Linked DNA regions of Homo sapiens: regions 1 and 2 are each linked to region 3. Evidence: fine-mapped expression QTL. A gene starts in region 3. Each other region holds a variant in brackets. All regions are shown on one strand. Distances are between the middles of the regions. Region 1 overlaps ANKRD24 (ankyrin repeat domain 24). Region 2 overlaps FSD1 (fibronectin type III and SPRY domain containing 1). Region 3 holds the start of ANKRD24 (ankyrin repeat domain 24).

The links. PIP is the estimated chance that this variant, and not a neighbour inherited with it, causes the effect.
Region 1: its variant is fine-mapped to the expression of ANKRD24 in transverse colon (GTEx, PIP above 0.99).
Region 2: its variant is fine-mapped to the expression of ANKRD24 in atrial appendage (GTEx, PIP 0.99). The same link has a PIP of 0.9 or more in gastroesophageal junction.

What each region holds. Positions count from the first base shown.
Region 1 is chr19:4,209,066-4,211,821 of GRCh38, forward strand. It overlaps ANKRD24 (ankyrin repeat domain 24), which reads left to right. Exons shown (of 22, transcript NM_001393985.1): 12 at 993-1,073; 13 at 1,200-1,307. Among named protein-coding and RNA genes, the nearest start is that of EBI3, 19 kb to the right of the region's middle. The variant G/A (reference allele first, on the strand shown) is at 1,294.
Region 2 is chr19:4,310,756-4,313,511 of GRCh38, forward strand. FSD1 (fibronectin type III and SPRY domain containing 1) reads left to right here. Exons shown (of 13, transcript NM_024333.3): 7 at 1,087-1,296. Among named protein-coding and RNA genes, the nearest start is that of FSD1, 7.5 kb to the left of the region's middle. The variant T/C (reference allele first, on the strand shown) is at 1,430.
Region 3 is chr19:4,181,383-4,184,138 of GRCh38, forward strand. ANKRD24 (ankyrin repeat domain 24) reads left to right here and starts at 1,307. Exons shown (of 22, transcript NM_001393985.1): 1 at 1,307-1,358. SIRT6 (sirtuin 6) reads right to left here and starts at 1,181. Exons shown (of 8, transcript NM_016539.4): 1 at 1,092-1,181. The coding sequence starts at 1,157. RefSeq lists enhancers at 1,155-1,244, 1,315-1,364.

The DNA.
Region 1 (2,756 bases), 28 kb after region 3:
TTCGGGGAAGGAAGCAGATCTGGCCTCTTCCCCTCTTTCAGTTTTTTTGTGTTTTTTTTCCCCGAGGTGGAGTCTCACTCTGTCGCCCAGGCTGGAGTACAGTGGCTCGATCTTGGCTCACTGCAACCTTCACCCCCTGGGTTCAAGCGATTCTCCTGCCTCAGCCTCCCTAGTAGCTGGGATTACAGGCACCCACCACAACTGGCTAATTTTTGTATTTTTAGTAGAGATGGGGTTTCACCCTGTTGGCCAGGCTGGTCTCAAACTCCTGGCCTCAAGTGACCCACCCGCCTCGGCCTCCCAAAGTGCTGGGATTACAGGCATGAGCCACTGAGCGCGACCCCTCTCCTAGTTTTTTTTTTTTGTTGTTGTTGTTGTTTGTTTGTTTTGTTTATTTTTTGAGAGATGGAGTCTCGCCCTGTCACCCAGGCTGGAGTGCAATGGCGTGATCTTGGCTCACTGCAACCTCTGCCTCCCAGGTTCAAGTGATTCTCCTGCCTCAGTTTCCCTAGTAGCTGGGACTACAGGCGTGCGCCACCATGCCCAGCTAATTTTTTGTATTTTTAGTAGGGTCGGGGTTTCACTCTGTGTTGTCCAGGCTGCTCTCGAACTCCTGACCTCAAGTGATCACCCACCTTGGCCTCCCAAAGTGCTGGGATTACAGGTGTGAGCCACCGCGCTGGCCCCTCTCCCAGTTTTAAAGCATCTCTGTTCCACAGAGGAGTGAAAACGTGTGGGCAATGTGGTCTAGCTGGGGAAAGAACTGAGAGACAGAGAGGAGCAGAGAGTAAAGAGTAAGATCTGGAACTTACAGGGAGTTGGTCTTGTCTGCGCTTTGCTGGGATAAGTAAGCGGCAGGAGGCAGGGGCTGCTGGTTCCATGTTCTCAGGAAGTCAGGCCATGGCTGGGGCTGGCTGGGTTGGTTTACTGTGGGGGAGGCTGGCATGGCCCCCCGATCGGCCCCCTTCACTCTCTCTCCCCTCCCTTCCCAGAACTCTATGTCCAGCCATGGAAAGCAGGGGGCCCCCAAGAAGCGGAAGGCGCCTCCACCTCCCGCCAGCATTCCCATGCCGGTGAGAGATGCTCTGGGCACGGGAGGAGGCATGGGGAGCCCCCAGGCACGGGGAGGGGCTCTGGCTGAGACCTGGGATGGGGCAACCTTAGGCCCCATCTAAAGGCCGTGGTGGGGAGGGGAACAGGATGATCGAGATGCCTATGAGGAGATCGTGAGGCTGCGGCAGGAGAGGGGCCGCCTCCTGCAGAAGATCCGGGGCCTGGAACAGCACAAGGAAC[G/A]GAGGCAGCAGGAGGTTAGGAGGCCTCGGAGATTTGGGCGTGGGCCAGCCTGGGTGGGGTCAATGCAGGCATGAAGATCCCCCTACTTTTCTCCCACCTTCCCTCCTCCATCTCTCTCCCTCCCCACCCTGCTGCAGCCACCTGGGCCTCCTCGCTGTTCCTCCAACTCGCCAGGCGCAGTCCTGCCTCAGGGCCTTTGCACCACCAGTGTCCTCTGCCTGGAATGCTCTAGCGCAGTCCTGCCTCAGGGCCTTTGCACCACCTGTGTCCTCTGCCTGGAATGCTCTAGCCCCAGATGGCCCCACAGCTCTTTACCTCACCTACTTTATGCAGTAGGCTCCTCGCCAAAGACACTTCCCATGCCCACTTCCCATGCCCACTTCCCATGCCCACTTTCTTCAAAATTGTAACATCACCCCCCACCACCCCCCCGGCCAACTCGCTAGTTCACTTTATTTTTTTTTTATTTATTTTTGGTTTTGTTTTGTTTTTGAGACGGAGTCTCGCTCTTGTTGCCCAGGCTAGAATGCAATGGTACGATCTCGGCTTATTGCCACCTCCGCCTCCCGGGTTCAAGCGATTCTCCTGCCTCAGTCTCCCAAGCAGCTGGGATTACAGGCGCCCACCACCACATCCAGCTAGTTTTGTATTTTTAGTAGAGACGGGGTTTCAGCACATTGGCCAGGCTGGTCTCTAACTCCTGACCTCAGGTGATCCTCCCGCCGCGGCCTCCTAAAGTGCTGGGATTGCAGGTGTGAGCCACCGCACCCGGCCTCTTTATCTCCATTTGCATCACTTGCTGCTATTGGGCATGCATCTGTTTTATGTGTGTCCACCCATTTGACTGTGAGCCTGCGAGGGCAGGCATGGCTGATGGTGCCTGGGTCACAGTATGGGCGTCGTCAATATTGATTGGGTGAGTGAATATTCAAGTGAGTGTATGAATGAATGGCCAAAACCAGGTCTGCCCCATAAGAGGCACCCAGTAAAAACTTTCTGGCTGGGCACGGTGGCTCACACCTGTAATCCCAGCACTTTGGGAGGTTGAGGTGGGCAGATCACTTGAGGTCAGGAGTTCGAGACCAGCCTGGCCAACATAGTGAAACCCTGTCTCTACTAAAAATACAAAAAAAAAATTAGCTGGGCATGGTGGCAGGGGCCTGTAATTCCAGCTACTTGGGAGGCTGAGGCAGGAGAATTGCTTGAACCCGGGAGGCAGAGGTTGCAGTGAGCCAAGATCACACCACTGCACTCCAGCCTGGGTGACAGAGCAAGACTCCATCTCAACAACAACAACCACAACAACAACAAACAAAAACAATCTTGTTGAGTGAATGAGTGGATGGAACGGTGCCTGGCATACAGCAGGTGCTTAATAAGTACATAGTAATTGTCCAGAATGGTGCATACTGGCACACACAGCAGGCACTTAATAAATACTTAGAAATGAATGACTGGTCAGA
Region 2 (2,756 bases), 130 kb after region 3:
GTTCTCATGGAGCCCCGCCCCTGGGTGGAGCCATGGGAAGACCCCACCCACTGTGTAGTGACATCCTGGGAAAACTCTGTACCCAGGGGTGGAACTGTGAGAATACCATGTCCTGTGGGGTTGGTTGAGTCCTCATGAGGCCCCGCCCTGGGGTGGAGCCATGAGAAGGTCAAACTCACCAGGTGGGAAAATCCTGTCCCCAGGGGTGGAGCCCTGAGAATAGCACGTCCTGTGGGGGTGGGGTATTCATCAAGTCCCGCCCATGGGTGGAGCCATCAGAAAGCCCCACCCACCAGGGGGTGAGGTCCTGGGAAAACTCTGTCCACAGGGGTGGAGCCCTGAGAATACCATGTCGTTGGGGGAGTGGAGTCCTCCCGAGACCTCCTCCCTGGATAGAGCCACGAGAAGGGCCTGCCCACCACATGGTAGCTCCTGGGAAAACCCTGTTTCCAGGGGTGGAGCCCTGAGAAGGCCACGTCCCCGAGGAGAAATGGACTGAGAACCCAGCCTGTCTATGATGCAGCCCCAAAGAAAGCCGCATCCCTCATTGGCAGAGATTTTGGAATAATTCTGCCTGTAAATGATGGAATCCCAAGAAAGCTCAGCCCTCCCCCAACCCACTGATGGAACCTTAGCGTCTCCATGGCCGGGCGCGGTGACTCACGCCTGGAATCCCAGCACTTTGGGAGGCCGAGGCGGGTGGATCACTTGAGGTCAGGAGTTCAAGACCAGCCTGGCCAACATGGAGAAACCCTGTCTCTACTAAAAATATAAAAAATTAGCCGGGCCATGGTGGCTCACGACTGTAATCCCAGCTACTCAGGAGGCTGAGGCAGGAGAATCGCTTGAACCAGGGAGTCGGAGGTTGCAGTGAGCCAAGATCGTGCCACTGCACTCCAGCCTGGGTGACAAGAGCAAGACTCTGTCTCTAAAAAAAAAAAAGTCTCCACCCTGCCAAACATGGAACCCCTTTGTGGCCATGCCCCCAAAATTGTCCAACATGTGGTTGGGCAGCCCTGCAGCAAGCCCCCTGCCCCCTGAACCAGGCACAGAATCCCGACCCCCTCTCCTTTCCGTCTTGGTCAGTGCCCAGCGCACCCGTGATCGACCTGGCTGAGTCCCTGGTGGCAGATAACTGTGTGACCCTGGTGTGGCGCATGCCGGATGAGGACAGCAAGATTGACCACTACGTGCTGGAGTACCGGCGGACCAACTTCGAGGGCCCGCCCCGCCTCAAGGAGGACCAGCCCTGGATGGTCATCGAGGGCATCCGGCAGACAGAGTACACCCTGACAGGTAAGGGCAGTGTGTGCCAGCTCCGCCCAGCTGTGAACAGCCACCTCTTCCAGCCTCCCGTCTCGCCATCAGTCACTGGGGGCCTTGGGGACGATCCCCAAAGCTCATGGGGTCTGGAAGCAGCCTGGGGAGG[T/C]GGATCAGAAATATGAGACAGTGGCCAGGCGCGGTGGCTCATGCCTGTAATCCCAGCACTTTGGGAGGCTGAAGCGGGTGGATCGCCTGAGGTCAGGAGTTCAAGACCAGCGTGGCCAACATGGTGAAACCCTATCTCTACTAAAAATACAAAAAAATTAGCCGGGCATGGTATCGGGCACCTGTAATCCCAGCTACTCAGGAGGCTAAGGCGGGAGAATTGCTTGAACCCGGAAGGTGGAGATGGCACTGAGCCGAGATCGCGCTATTGCACTCCAGCCTGGGCAACAAAAGCGAAACTCATCTCAAAAAAACAAAAAATAATAATAATGAATATAGGCCGGGCGCGGTAGCTCACGCCTGTAATCCCAGCACTTTGGGAGGCCGAGGCGGGCCGATCACAAGGTCAGGAGATCGAGACCATCCTGGCTAACACGGTGAAATACTGTATCTACTAAAAAAATACAAAAAATTAGCCGGGCGTGGCGGTGTGCACCTGTAGTCCCAGCTGCTCAGGAGGCTGAGGCAGGAGAATGGCGTGAACTCGGGAGGCGGAGCTTGCAGTGAGCCTAGATTGCGCCACTGCACTCCAGCCTGGGCGACAGAGCAAGACTCCGTCTCAAAAAATAAATAAATAAATAAATAAATAAATAAATAATAATAATGAATATATTTTTCCAGACATGGGATCCTGCCATTTCCCTAGGCTGGTCTCCAACCCCTGGCCTCAAGCAGTCCTGCCTCAGCCTCCCAAATAGCTGTGTACTGTCCTCGGAGCAGGGAACAAAGCAGACAATAATCTTTTCCCTCCTAGAGCTGGCGTTCTGGATTCACCCTCCAAGTATTTGGGGTCCTCCTTGGCAGTTACAAGAAATTGAAAGCTGGCCAGGCATGGTGGCTCAAGCCTGTGATACAGCACTTTGGGAGGCTGAGGCAAGAGGATTGCTTGAGGCCAGGAGCTGGAGACCAGCTTGGGTAACAAAGCAAGAGCCCATCTATAAAAAAAAAAAAAATTTAAAGTTACCTGAGCATGGTGGTCCCCGCTACCAAGGGAGGCTAAGGTGGGAGGATTGTTTGAGCCCAAGAATTGGAGGCTGCAGTGAGCCATGACTGCACCACCGCACTCCAGCCTGAGCAACAGAGCGAGACCCTGTCTCTACTAAACAAAGAGAGAAAAATAAAGAAAAAAAAAAACAAAACCCAAGGAATCCACCCAGCTGGTGGAGGTAGGGTCTGAAGGGGGAAAGCCTCCTGGGCCGGGCGTGGTGGCTCACACCTGTACTCCCAGCACTTTGGGAGGCTTAGGCGGGCGGATCTTGAAGTCACGA
Region 3 (2,756 bases):
TCTCCCTTACTAGAAGGAGGGGTTTTTAATCTGTGTTGCTCCTGGCTGTGGCCTTAGTACCTAGAAAGTGCCTGAGCTACAGTAAGTGCTCTATAAATGTTGGTGGAATAAAGTGACTAACAGGCCGGGTATGGTGGCTCACGCCTATAATCCCAGCACTTTGGGAAGCCAAGGTGGGTGGATCACTTGAGATCAAGAGTTCAAGAGCAGACTGGCCAACATGGTGAAACCCCGCCTCTACTAAAAATACAAAAATTAGCCAGGCGTGGTGGCAGGTGCCTGTAGTCTCATCTACTCTACTCAGGAGGCTGAGGCAGGAGAATCGCTTGAACCTAGGAGGCGGAGGTTGCAGTGAGCCGAGATCGCGCCACTGCACTCCAGCCTGGGCGACAGAGAAACTCCATCTCAAAAATATAATAATAATAATAATAAAGTGACTAACAGCAGCAGTGAAGAGTGGGGCTTCTGGACGGGCGCACACCATCAGCGCTCATTAAATGCATGAGTCAGAATGCATGGGCCAGCCTTATGGAATGGGGCCATCTTCACCTCGTTTGCAGAAAGTTTGGAGATGGAGACCCAAAAGGGAAGTGACTTCCCCAAAGTCCCACAGTGCGTGGAGGGGGCAGCCGATCCCTCCACTTCCCCTCTGAGTGGCTGGAGGGATCTTTCTGGCACATTCTGTCCAGTCCCCTCGCCAGGGCAAAACCCTTCCCCATCACCCTCAGGATAAAGTGCCAACTCCCCAGCCTGGCATTTGAGCCCCGTCCTGGCCCGGCTCTGGAAACCTCCCAGGCCTAATCGTTCTCCAGGTGTGTTTATTCCCACCTCCCTTTGCGCCTGTCGTCCCCTCTTCCTGGAACTACATCCCCTCTCTCCCCGATCAGCCCCGACAGGGTGACCACAGAGTTGGGCGTGTTGGCGTCCCCCGGCGCGCAGGGGCGTCACTTCCCGCCCCTTCCTCACTGGGAAGTCCCTCCCATTGTCTAGCCTCAGTGCCCCCTGATATTCCCACAATGCCCCCCTGCCATCCGGCCGCTCCCAGCCCGCGGCCCTGGGGCGCGATGCTCGGGACCCTCAGACGCGCTCACCTCCGGGAGGCCGCACTTGCCCTTGTCCGCGTACGGCGACAGCCCCGCCGCGTAATTCACCGACATCCTCGACTGCCCCACGGGAACAATAAAGTTTCCCTTGTTGAGGCCGCTTCCGCCGGAAGCGGGGCGGGGCGGGGAAGAAGGAGGAACCGCGTTCCAGTCCTGCGCACCCGGCCTCCCACGGCAAGGCGCATGCGCCTCTTGCTGACGCCGCAGGCGACATGTTATCTGCTGTCAGAAGGAAGCCTGCCTCTTTGCATGCAGGTGTTTGCGGGGCTTGGGAAGGGGCTCCCCGATGACCCGGGCGGGAAATTGGGGCGGCCGCCTACGTGAGAGTTCTCCAGTCACCTCTAAAATGCGGGACACAGGCTATCCATGTCCCCACAACCCCTTTTACGGATTAGTAAATTCCGTAAGGACAGAGCCGGACAGCAGGGACCCCAGCCTAAGGGTTTTGAATGCCACGCAGAGTTACCTGAATATCTCATTTGTGTGTGTGTGTGTGTGTGTGTGTGTGTGTGTGACGGAGCCTCGCTCTGTTGCCCAGGCTGGAGTGCAGTGGCGCAATCTCGGTTCACTGCAACCTCCGCCTCTTGGGTTCAAGCGATTCTCCTGCCTCAGCCTCCCTAGTAGCTGGGATTACAGGCGCCCGCCACCACACCCAGCAAATTTTTGTATTTTTTAGTAGAGACGGGGTTTCTCCATGTTGGTCAGGCTGGTCCCGAACTCCTGACCTCAGGTGATCTGACCGCCTCGGCCTCCCAAAGTGCTGGGATTACAGGCGTGAGCCACTGCGTCCGGCCAAGTTATCTGAGTATCATCCAACTGGAGGTTCTGCATTCTGCAGGACAGGTCCTGCTCAAGGTCAATGGGGCTGGTGGCCTGGAGGACTCATTTAAGAATCATGTGTTGAGTACCTACTTTGTACTGGGCACACTGGAGAGCAAAGGTGGTACCATCTATGCCCTGGTGGCTGCGGGTGGACACAAACATGTGACCAGGTAATGGTGACATGGTGTGGTTGGGGTGCAATGGGTGATGCAGAGGGCACAGGGCAGTGAGGGGGCTCACAGGAGGCACCTGACCCAGGCTGGGGGCATCCGGGAGGGCTTCCTGGAGGAGGGGATGTTGCAGCAAAGATCTAAAAAGTGAGTGAGCCGGGCGCAGTGGCTCACACCTGTAATCCCAGCACTTTGGGAGGCCAAGGCAGGTGGATCACCTGAGATTGGGAGTTCGAGACCACCCTGACCAACATGGAGAAACCCCGTCTCTACTAAAAATACAAAATTAGCTGGGTGTGGTGGCCTGTAATCGCAGCTGCTCGGGAGGCTGAGGCAGGAGAATTGCTTGAACCCAGGAGGCGGAGATTGCGGTGAGCCGGAGATCGCGCCATTGCACTCCAGCCTGGGCAACAAGCATGAAACTCCGTCTCAAAAATAAATAAATAAATAAATAAAGAGTGCATGAGTCAGGTAGAGCCGGTTGGGGTGACATGAAGTACAGAAAGAATGTTCCTGGTGGGGGGAACAGCAAGTGCAAAGGCTGAGAAAGAGGAAGAGCATGGCTCCTTCCAGAAACTGAAATCAGTCCAGTGATGATAGGGAAGATCGTGGGTGTCTTCCCGCCAGAGCCAGTTGGCCAACAGGCAGTCCGCTGCCAGCC